3 linked regions of the Homo sapiens genome follow. The protein of the gene in region 1 interacts with the protein of each later gene in a pairwise test. Each region holds a gene or a part of one and is shown in the gene's direction. Other genes may lie near its edges.

Evidence for each region.
Region 2: the proteins of PTGES3 (region 1) and CAV3 interact in a two-hybrid assay, tested with the Homo sapiens proteins (one large-scale study listed by BioGRID and IntAct).
Region 3: the proteins of PTGES3 (region 1) and URI1 interact in binary tests that used the Homo sapiens proteins (3 or more experiments, as listed by UniProt).

What each region holds. Positions count from the first base shown.
Region 1 is NC_000012.12:56,664,240-56,667,894, reverse strand, and holds part of PTGES3 (prostaglandin E synthase 3), read left to right. Parts: intron 1-1,628; coding exon 1,629-1,691; coding exon of another isoform or gene 1,692-1,739; exon of another isoform or gene 1,740-3,088; intron 3,089-3,094; coding exon 3,095-3,119; intron 3,120-3,396; coding exon 3,397-3,416; 3' UTR 3,417-3,655. UniProt on the Homo sapiens protein: Cytosolic prostaglandin synthase that catalyzes the oxidoreduction of prostaglandin endoperoxide H2 (PGH2) to prostaglandin E2 (PGE2).
Region 2 is NC_000003.12:8,743,802-8,747,413, forward strand, and holds the end of CAV3 (caveolin-3), read left to right. Parts: intron 1-1,724; coding exon 1,725-2,066; 3' UTR 2,067-2,957; downstream 2,958-3,612. UniProt on the Homo sapiens protein: May act as a scaffolding protein within caveolar membranes. Interacts directly with G-protein alpha subunits and can functionally regulate their activity. May also regulate voltage-gated potassium channels.
Region 3 is NC_000019.10:30,004,591-30,008,245, forward strand, and holds part of URI1 (unconventional prefoldin RPB5 interactor 1), read left to right. Parts: intron 1-770; coding exon 771-862; intron 863-1,060; coding exon 1,061-1,118; intron 1,119-2,879; coding exon 2,880-3,048; intron 3,049-3,655. UniProt on the Homo sapiens protein: Involved in gene transcription regulation. Acts as a transcriptional repressor in concert with the corepressor UXT to regulate androgen receptor (AR) transcription.

The sequences.
Region 1 (3,655 bases):
CTCAGGTGATCCACCCGCCTTGGCCTCCCAAAGTTCTGGGATTACAGGCATGAGTCACCAGACCTGGCCACGCCCAGCTATCTTTTAAGTGCATGATACAGTATTGTTAACTATAGGCATAATGCTGTACAGTAGTAGGTCTCTGGAACTATGCATTTTGTGTAATTGGAATTTGATACCTATTTAACAGTAGCAACTCTGCATTTTCCTTCCCCCCAGCTCCTGGCATCTACCATTCTACTCTCTATTTTTGTGTGTCTGACTATCTTAGGTATCTTACATAATCTTAGGTATCTCATATAAGTGGAATCATGCAGTATTTGTCCTGTGACTGGCTTATTTCACATAGCATGACGTGCTTCAGATTCTTCATTGTGTTTTGTCACATAAGGCAGATTTTTTTCTTTAAGGCTGAATGATACTTTTAGGCTGAACACATTCCATTGTATGTTTGACTATCTTTTTAAGGTCCTTTCCCATTCTAAAATCTGGGTAATCATGTATTTTTGAAGTTTGATTTTTTTTCCATGCATATGTGATTTTATTTTTCTAAAATTTAAACATTACAAAAATGGTTTAAACTTGAGAAAATAAGTTTCTCATCATCTGATAATAGTTTAAGTTTAAATCATTTCTTGGTTCTTCACAATATCTAAAACCATGATGAGAATACCAGGCCTGGCACAGTGGCTTGCTCCTGTAATCCCAGCACTTTGGGAGGCCGAGGCAAGGGGATCACTTGAGGCCAGGAGTTCAAGACCAGCCTGGCCAATATGGTAAAACCCTGTCTCTACCAAAGATACAAAAACTAACTGGGCGTGGTGGCATCTGCCTGTAATCCCAGCTACTCAGGAAGCTGAGGCAGGAGACTCCCTTGAACCCGGGAAGCGGAAGTTGCAGTGAGCCGAGATTGTGCTGCTGCACTCCAACCTGGGCAACAGAGCAAGACTCCATCTCAAAATAAAAAAGGCTTGGCATGGTGGTTCACGCCTGTAATCCCAGCACTTTGGGAGGCCAAGGTGGGTGGATCACTACAGCCCAGGAATTCGAGACCAGCCTGGGCAACATGGTGAAACCCCGTGTGTACCAAAATACAAAAAATTAGTTGGGTGTGGTGGTACGCGCCTGTAATCCCAGCTACCCTGGAGGCCGAGGCATGAGAATTGCGTGAACCCAGAGGCGGAGGTTGCAGTGAGCTGAGATCACGCCACCATACTCCAGCTTGGACGACAAAGCTAGACTCTGTCTCAAAAAAAAAAGAATACCTTAATACATGTTCCACCTAACTTAAGATAGATAGCTGTGCAACTACAAATGAATCCCATTCTTTTCCTTAACCACCAGAGGTAACCACTACTCAAGTAGAATTTTTAATGTTTGTCAAACCTGTTGCATGAATAGCTTTGCTTTTCTTTAGGGAAAATTTAGTTTTAATTTCCATATGGGTTTTTAGGATTTTGTATAATTACCTATAATCTTCCTTTTCCAGAAGGGAAAGATGCTTATATTTGCATTTTGCATTTTTTGATATCTGTGGCAGACTTAAGGTTTATTCTGAAGCATACAGCATTAATAATTAGGGCCTAACTTAACATCATTTTTAAAACTAATTTTTACACTTCAAATAGATGATGAACAACATGGGTGGTGATGAGGATGTAGATTTACCAGAAGTAGATGGAGCAGATGATGTAAGTCTAAAAATTCTTTTTTCTGTTTACTTTCATACTATTAAATAGTAAGAAACAACATATTTACAAATGGTTTTATATAGATTCACAATTACTTCTTATTTTCTAAAAAAAAAGAAAAGGGAAAAGCAATTTTTAAAATGTGCCCATTTTTGACGAATGGGGGTATCTATTAGGGAACTGGTTGTACCGTAGACCATTCCTAAATGGATTAGATTTCCAAAGAATCATTGTATAGAGACATTATATATTAATACCGTACTCAATTATAACAGTCAGTTTAGGCCGGGCGAGGTGGCTCATGTCTGTTATCCCAGCAGGCCAGGTGGGCAGAGTACGTGAGGTCAGGAGTTCGAGACCAGCCTGGCCAACATGGTGAAACCCTGTCTTAAAAACTTAGCCAGACATGATGGCAGGTGCCTGTAATCCCAGCTACTGGTGAGCTGAGGTGGGAGAATCGCTTGAACCTGGGAGGCGGAGGTTGCAGTGAGCCAAGATCACACCATTGCACTCCAGTGTGGGCAGCAGAGCGAGGCTCCATCTCAAAAAGAAAGAAGAGAGTCAGTTTATAGGTATGATTTTGACTAAGAAAGTAAGTTAAATAGGTTTTATGTCAGGATTGGTCAGAGACCGATAAAACAGATGGACATTGGGAGGCGGAGATGGGTGGATCATGCGGTCAAGAGTTTCAGGCCAGCCTGGCCAAGATGGCGAAACCCCATCTCTACTAAAAATACAAAAATTAGCCGGGCATGGTGGCGGGTGCCTGTAATCCCAGCTACTTGGGAGGCTGAGGCAGGAGAATCGCTTGAACCCGGGAGGCAGAGGTTGCAGTGAGCCGGATCTCGCCACTGCACTGTAGCCTGGGTGACAGAGCAAGACTCCATCTCCCCCCACCCAAAAAAAAAAAAAAAAAAAAGATGGACATTGGAAATCTGTAAGAGGAAGATACACTAAACTACTTTTCTCAACATCTTTCCAACCCCAGCATCCTGTTAACATCTCCCAGAAAGTTATTTAATGCTATTTAGAAAAACACTTAATATTCACTCAACAGCTAGGATTAGAGTTCACTGTCTTCTATCAGTCCATTTTTCTTCATATTGATCCATGTTTTCTCTTTGAATGCCGAGATAGGTTAATTTAGGAATGGATTCAACGGGTGGGCTAAATTGTCACCAAAAGGCACACATCATTTTTTATAGGTAGATAAATCCTCTGCTGTACATCCATTCACCTTAGGTAAACCTAGTCAAGTCCAATGACTAAATTTCTAGGCTTGATATGACTACCTACCTGTGCTACTTTAGTCAAAAATATAGCACTTGAACTTTTTTAGGTAAACTGTTCAGTTAGCAAACGAATATTTGATCAGCTCGGTAACTTTATTTTCCCTCTTTCAGGATTCACAAGACAGTGATGATGAAAGTAAGTGTATATAAAAAGTATGTTTATACAGTGATACTTTGCATCAAAAAACAAACTCAAAATAGAGATGTTAACTTCTTTGGAAGTAAAGTAATTTTTTCTTTATGACCTTGAATAAATAACCAAAGCAGAAATGTGAATAACTTGATAGCAAGACAACCTATTAATTCATTGGGCAACTATGTATTTCGATTTTTGGTTGCTTTTCCTTTAAGACAGTAAAATTGGTAGATTATTCACTTGTACTATATACTAATATTTTTAAAAATTCTTTCAGAAATGCCAGATCTGGAGTAAGGAATATTGTCATCACCTGGATTTTGAGAAAGAAAAATAACTTCTCTGCAAGATTTCATAATTGAGAGAATTCCTGAGTTGATAGCTCTAAAGGCAGATATGCTGTATTTGCCTACTTTAACCCATTTTTCAACCTGTTTGTTTTTTAAAAGGCTTCACTAAGGGTTGATATGTACCATTGTATGGGGCAATTTTAAGTCAGCTAAGGCAATAACCTTATGCATGAACATTTCCCAGAC
Region 2 (3,612 bases), on another chromosome or scaffold:
GAAAATATTGTACTGGAAAGAAATGCACCAAAACAATCATATCTTTAGTAATAGAGAAGTACAAACCCAAGACTCTTTTCTTTTTTCTATTCTGTTAATTCTCTGTGATATGGCCATTTTTTTTATAATGAAAGTAATTTTAATATTGGTGATGCAATAGAGGAGAGGATCCCCTCCCCATAACCAAGGCGGGAAAGGGACTAACTAACCAGGAAGATTGAAGTTGGAGCCTCAGCCCTGCAGGCCACCACACAGGCCCCTCCTGTTGATCTGATTAGTCTGTACCTGCATCCACCCCCTTTTAATTTGAATGGCCCAGGAGCACTGCTAGAAAGAAAACATCTCAGAACAGTTTCAGGCATTAGCAAACAGCTCTGCAACCTCCCACTTGGCGGGCTGTACTGGTAACAACCATGGGGAGACCAGTCATGAAGCAGCTAATTTGGTTCACTGCTGTTTAATTGACCAGTGGAATTTTTTTTTTTTTTTTTTTTTGAGATGGAGTCTCGCTCTGTCACCCAGGCTGGAGTGCAGTGGCACAATCTCGGCTCACTGCAAGCCCCGCCTCCCGGGTTTATGCCGTTCTCCTTCCTCAGCCTCCCAAGTAGCTGGGACTACAGACACCCGCTGCCATACCCGGCTAATTTTTTTTTTTTTTTTTTTTTTTTGTATTTTTAGTAGAGACAGGGTTTCACTGTGGACCAGTGGATTTTACAGCCTCCCATCCTTTCATCCTCATGATACCACTGGAAGACGTTCATTGACTCCATCTTACAGACAAGACAGCTGAGGCTTAGTGATGCTAAGTGACATCACCCATGTGTAGGCAGCTAGGAAGGTGCTTCATGCATAGCAGGGCTCGAGAGAGCTTAGGTAAGCGATGTGAGGAACCTCTGCCTGTTCACCATCCAATCCACAGGTGCTCAGTAAATTGCTGTAGGATGCATACGACCGTCCAACACCCTTCAGATCATAAAACAATAGAATTTGAGAGCTGCGACTATAGCACTGCCACTAAGTCACTGTTGGCTTTAAGCAAGTCGCTCACCTTGAGGGGGTTGAACGAGCGTGTTGTGTTGGTCAGCGGTGCCTAGGAACAGCAGCAGCTTGGGCTCAACAGGGAGCTTGTTAGAAATACAGAGCCTTAGGCCCCACTCCAGACTTGGGGAGTCGGAATCCCTGGGGCGATGATATGGTCTGGATCTGTGTCCCCTCTAAACCTCATGGTGAAACATAATCTCCAATATTGGAGGTGGGGCCGGGTGGGAGGTGATCGGATCACAGAGGCAGATCCCTCGTGGCTTAGTGCTGTCCTCACAATAGTGGGAGAGTTCTCATAAGATCTGGTTGTTGTAAAGTGTGGCACTCCACCCCCTGCCCAGCTCTCTCTCTTGCTCCCACTCTCACCAGGGGAGACGCCTGCTCTCCCTTCTCTAGCCATGGTTGAAAGCTCCCTGCGGCCTCACCTGAAGCCAAGCAGATGCCAGCACCATGATTCCTGCACAGATCACAGACCCATGGGCCAATTAAACCTCCTTTCTTTATCAATTACCCAGCCTCAGGTATGTCTTTAAAGCAATGCAAGAATAGCCTAATACAGGTAGGGTCCAGCCACCAAGGTTAACCTGACCTCTAGGGGATTCTGACACATGCACGCACACACCCAAAAGCTTGAGAAGCGGGTGGCTTCTGTGAGTTGAGGCTTCCCCTTGCCACCCCTGCAGGTGGATTTTGAAGACGTGATCGCAGAGCCTGTGGGCACCTACAGCTTTGACGGCGTGTGGAAGGTGAGCTACACCACCTTCACTGTCTCCAAGTACTGGTGCTACCGTCTGTTGTCCACGCTGCTGGGCGTCCCACTGGCCCTGCTCTGGGGCTTCCTGTTCGCCTGCATCTCCTTCTGCCACATCTGGGCGGTGGTGCCATGCATTAAGAGCTACCTGATCGAGATCCAGTGCATCAGCCACATCTACTCACTCTGCATCCGCACCTTCTGCAACCCACTCTTCGCGGCCCTGGGCCAGGTCTGCAGCAGCATCAAGGTGGTGCTGCGGAAGGAGGTCTAAAGCCAGGTGGGGCAACAGCGGTGGCAGGGCAGGGGGTGGTGGGCCAGACTGGTCCCCGGGGGACTTCTTCACAGGGGCTGCTGGCGAGCTCTTTCTCTTTAGGGACTGCTCCATACCCCATGATGGAGCACACGGTGTAGGGAAGCCAGAAAGAAAAGACGGCCCAGCCACAGAAGCACAATGGCCCTTCGCTCTCCCCCAGCCCCACCATGATGCCCCCATGCCTGGGCGTGGGGGAAGATCATTTGCCAAGAGGCAGCTACTGCAAGTCTTTGCGTTCACTTGTACTGTAACAACATAAACCAGCACGCGGTTCCCACCCGGGGCCAACCTCTCCACGCGCACTCAGGAAAGTGACCAGTGACCACTGGCGTTAGGAAGGTGGCTCCAGTAAAGGGTTTTGGCTGCATTTGGGGAATGCTGCATTTTGTTCGTGCCTGTAAGATTGGTTTGTGTCCTGACCAGCTCCAAAAATATACTTCACTGCCCTGAAAAACAGACACAGGGAGAGTTGGTTGTCTCTTCACTTGGCCAAATGTAAGTGAAGAACAGAGTCTTTTTCTTCTTCGGATTCTATTGTTTGCTGGAACCGTACACGTTCCTTGGAAGATCATGTTTAAGTGACTCCTGTTGCCTGAGCACAAAAATGGGCACCAATGGAGGAAAATGACCCTTGGGCTGGCAGGGGCAGTGACCCTTCCAGGGTACCACTGAGGGAAGGGCCTGGGTTCAAGCCTCCCGGAACCTCCCCTTTGGCTAACCGAGCCCCTGAAATGCCCAGTACTGCCATTTGACATGAGGGTACCTTCGCCCTCAGGAGATGTGACGAAGGAACAAGGTCTAATTTGTGCGTGTGTGGACTCACTATGGAAATAAAATGCAGTAGAAAGAGCATGTATCACTTCCTCCCTCCTCACACTCTCTCTCTCTCTCACACACACACACACACACAGTGCCCTTATCTTCTTTAGGGCTGTCTTTTCCGAGTGTGCTATCCAGAACTTAGCCATTAAAAAAGAAAGGATGGGGATGGGTGTTAGCATCTGTGGTCCGGTTCTTTCAGAAATGCTGTATATTTCTCTCAGAGATTTTCAATAGACTTTGGCACATTAAAGGCTCTGACATGTCCTGCAGTAGATAAACCTGTTTAAACCAGTATCCCCCCAATCCTATCTGACCTTTTTTTTTTCTTTTTTTCTTTTCATGCAACGCCCATTTAAGTCTCATATAATTAAAGTTCCACAGCACTTGTCAGGTTTTCGGAGACATTATTCATGCCTGGCCACGAGCCCAGTGGTCTTGGGAGGCAGTGTGGTGAAGTGGACCACACACAGCTTGGGAACTAGGACGCAGGCAGCCTTGGTTCTAGTCCTGCTTCCGCTCCTAGTTGCCTTTTCTGCCTCAATTTTATCACCCACAAATTGATCTCTAATGTGCATTTTGGCTCCAAAATTTTACCCAATTTTGGTTTTCTCCTAACATTGTATGTAAATTTCAAACACAGAAAAGTTGAACAGCTACATACCCATCTTGGCTCTATCATTAA
Region 3 (3,655 bases), on another chromosome or scaffold:
CTTGGCCATAAAAATTCTGTATTTGGAGAAAAGTAGGATATTGTTCAGCATATAATTATAGTTAGAAACCCCATGTATTTTTTAGATGGTGCCATTTACTGCTTAGCAGAGATTTCTACTCTGATTACAGAAACATGAATTACTTGTTGCATTTGTCCAGTATTGGGTAGAGAAATGTTTGTGTCTATTCTCAAATTAAAATTTTTCCTCAAATAGGTTAATAGAGGGTGGTATTTAGGAGATGTTGAAAGGCTGTGTGTTGTGTTGTTATGCAGTTTAACTTGGAAATGGTTGATTATATACCGTAAAAAATGTGTTGTATTTTCAGTCATCTAATTTAGGAATATTTTCTGTTCAGGAACAGAATAACTTGTCTTAATCTATGTTATCTATGCATTATCCAGCTGGACAAAAATTACCTGTGCAACAAAACTGTTATGAAATACTGCATTTTATGTGATGATCCAACTAGATATTTATCCTATAGAAACCTGGTAGCACCAGGCAGCATCTACAATCTAGTTCTGTACTCTGTAATAGAGAGAAAATATGTTAGACATTTTATTACGAACAAAGTAATGTGCTATATATATAGCACAAAAATACACAGTATAACTTATTAAAAGTCCATTTAAAAGGAAAATAGTGTAAGATTTTTGAAAAGCATTACTGTTAAATCATACTTGTAGTGTGATAGGACTACAGTTAAAATATTCCTACAGGTCGTATATATGCCATGCTTTACATAATGGTTGTGTTCATTGTTTCAGATGTAAGAAAAACAATAGATGACTTAAAAAAAGTGATGAAAAATTTTGAATCCAGAGTTGAATTCACAGAAGATTTGCAGAAAATGAGCGATGTGAGTATTTGTTTTTAGTCTTCTATATTTTTAGAAAATATTTTCAAAGAAATATGAAGCTATCTTACAGCCAAGGAACAAATTAATTGAAGTTTAAAATGCTTTCAGACATCTTAGGTTGAATAGTTGCTCTTTGGATAATTTTAGTATGCTGGAGATTTGTGTTGTTAATACGCTTTTTTTTTGTTTAAAAACCAGGCTGCAGGTGATATTGTTGACATACGAGAAGAAATTAAATGTGACTTCGAATTTAAAGGTAAGCAGTAAGATTGTTTTATGTGTAGCTGTTTAGATATTTTGATTTTTGTTGATTTTCAGTGGGCTTTCTGTGAGATATTTGGGATTTAGAATACACTTTTAAATTCATAGGATGCCAACATTTTTCTACTCATTGATTTTTTTTTATGTGAAACATTAATGGATAAATAACTTTTGGTTAAAAATGTGATTCCTGACTGGTCTGTTTTAGTGGTGGGATTACATGGCTTTTTTCTCCCAAAGTTCTCCAGTGCTCCAAACCTCTAAAACTCAGAAGATGTATATTCTAGACATGGATCTGCTCCTAATTTGTTCTCTGACCATGGTGAAGTCCTAAGATATCTTTTGCTAGTTTTTCTTCTTTTAAAACTGCAGCTTTGTAAGCTGTTTTTGGAAGAATGAATGAATGTGGGTGTATTTCAGCCATTCCTCTTATGGTGCCTGCAGTGGCTTTCCCTGCGCAGGTTGTTCCCATCTCCACCCAGTAGATTTCTTTTGCCAAGGCTGGCTTATGTGTTTGGGTTTACTTCTGTAAAGCCAATGGTTCCTTCGTCAGTTGTAAAGTGTTAACGGTAGTGAAATTGTAAAAAGTATTACAGATGGCTTATTATTTGCTACTGTAGAAGACTGTACAGTGTCTTAAACAAATGTACTGAGCATTCGTTTTGACTTTCAGCACTCATATTTTGGTGATGAACTCTTAAGATAACTTACTGGTTGAAAGAAGCCACATCACAAGTAACAGGAAGTGGCTTTAGAAGGTGAAATAAAGGATATGTATATTAAAGTTGAACAGAAAGACAAGATTTTTGTTTGTGGTGACCAGTGACAAATTATGAGCGCTACAGGTCTGAAATAAAAATTGTTAACTACTGTCTTATCAATAATAGTTACAGAGAATAAGGCTGTGAAACATAATTTGATATTTTCAGATGTATGCAACAATGCAGCAAATTTGAATATATGATGGACTCGAGGTCATCTGGTAGTGCCATATCTCATAACAGGACGCATCTTAGACTTCTTCCCATTACTTTCCCATTACTTTGCTTTAATAAAGCAAATAAAGCCTTAATTTGCTTTATTAAAAAATAATCTATTTTTTAAAATGAAAAGCAGATACCTCTGAGTTCAGATTTGACCCATCTTTTTTCCTCACATGAAGATTACAAATGAAGCAGTTTAAAAAGTAGAGATGTTCATATGTAAAATGATAATAGAACTTTACAGAGATGAGCCGCCGTTGTTTCCTTGTAGGGTACTCATTCCTTGGCAGTGCCCTGGAGTTTAAAGTATCCTGTCACAAGGCTTTTGCACGTTACTGTAGTAACTAGATTTCCTTGAGTAAGGATGGTAAATGGAAATTTATCATTTATGTGTTGCATTTCGCCTTATAACCAGGGTGCATTGTGGCCATTTCTTATGCATTTTTGAAGCTCTTCTCACAACCTTGAATGTGTATGCAGGTTCTCTGGGGCTCTTGTTGAAATACAGATTCTGATTCAGTGGGTCTAGGGTGTCCTTAGAGCTTACACTTCTGAAGTGTTCCCCAAGGACGCCAGTGCTGTTGATCCATGGACCACACTTTGAGTAGCAAGGCTGTAAGAGACATTCATCCTTGGAGTTCTGTTTGGCTTAAAAATTGTGACCCCTCTGTTTCAATATTTCCCTTGCCCCAAAAGAAAGTCTCATTAAGTCTGGGTTTGTGCCTTTTTTATGTTGGCTATTAACAGCCACGTCTTTTCCTTTTTCTAAATAGCAAAACACCGAATTGCTCATAAACCGCATTCCAAACCAAAAACTTCAGATATTTTTGAAGCAGATATTGCAAATGATGTGAAATCCAAGGATTTGCTAGCTGATAAAGAACTGTGGGCTCGACTTGAAGAACTAGAGAGACAGGAAGAATTGCTGGGTGAACTTGATAGGTACTTGATGACAAATTATCTTTCCAAGATAATTTGTTTCTATACACATTTCCTCATTAATCTTTTTCTTCATTAATAAAATAATATGTGTTCATTGAAGAAAATGCAGGGAAGCATAATATATTATCAATAATCCTTTCACCTCAAGATGAACATTAATTCTCTGGAATATTTTCTTATAGGATTGTGTGTTTGTGCATATTCCCATGCATGTACATGTACTTAAATACTTAAGATCAACATCTTCATTTTTTATTATGGCCTATTTTATATAATTAATTATACCAGATAGTTGACTTTTAATAATCATGGATTTAATATATATAATGTTAAATTTTAAATGAAGTATTTTTATGCCACACCCAGGATAGTGCTCTATCTTTGAATGTGTTGTGAAAAACAAAAATACACTTTGAATTTAAATTTGATACAGTAAAATGTTTATTCTTGCTTTCCTTTTATAAACTTTGGAGCAGGTAATTTGTAATCTGGTCAGATAGCTATATGTATGAGAAACTTTACGAAATTGCTGTTTGAAATACACATTAGCACACACTTAGAATTGTTAAAATGCTAAATGAAATCTGCTACTCGAGAAGTTCTATAT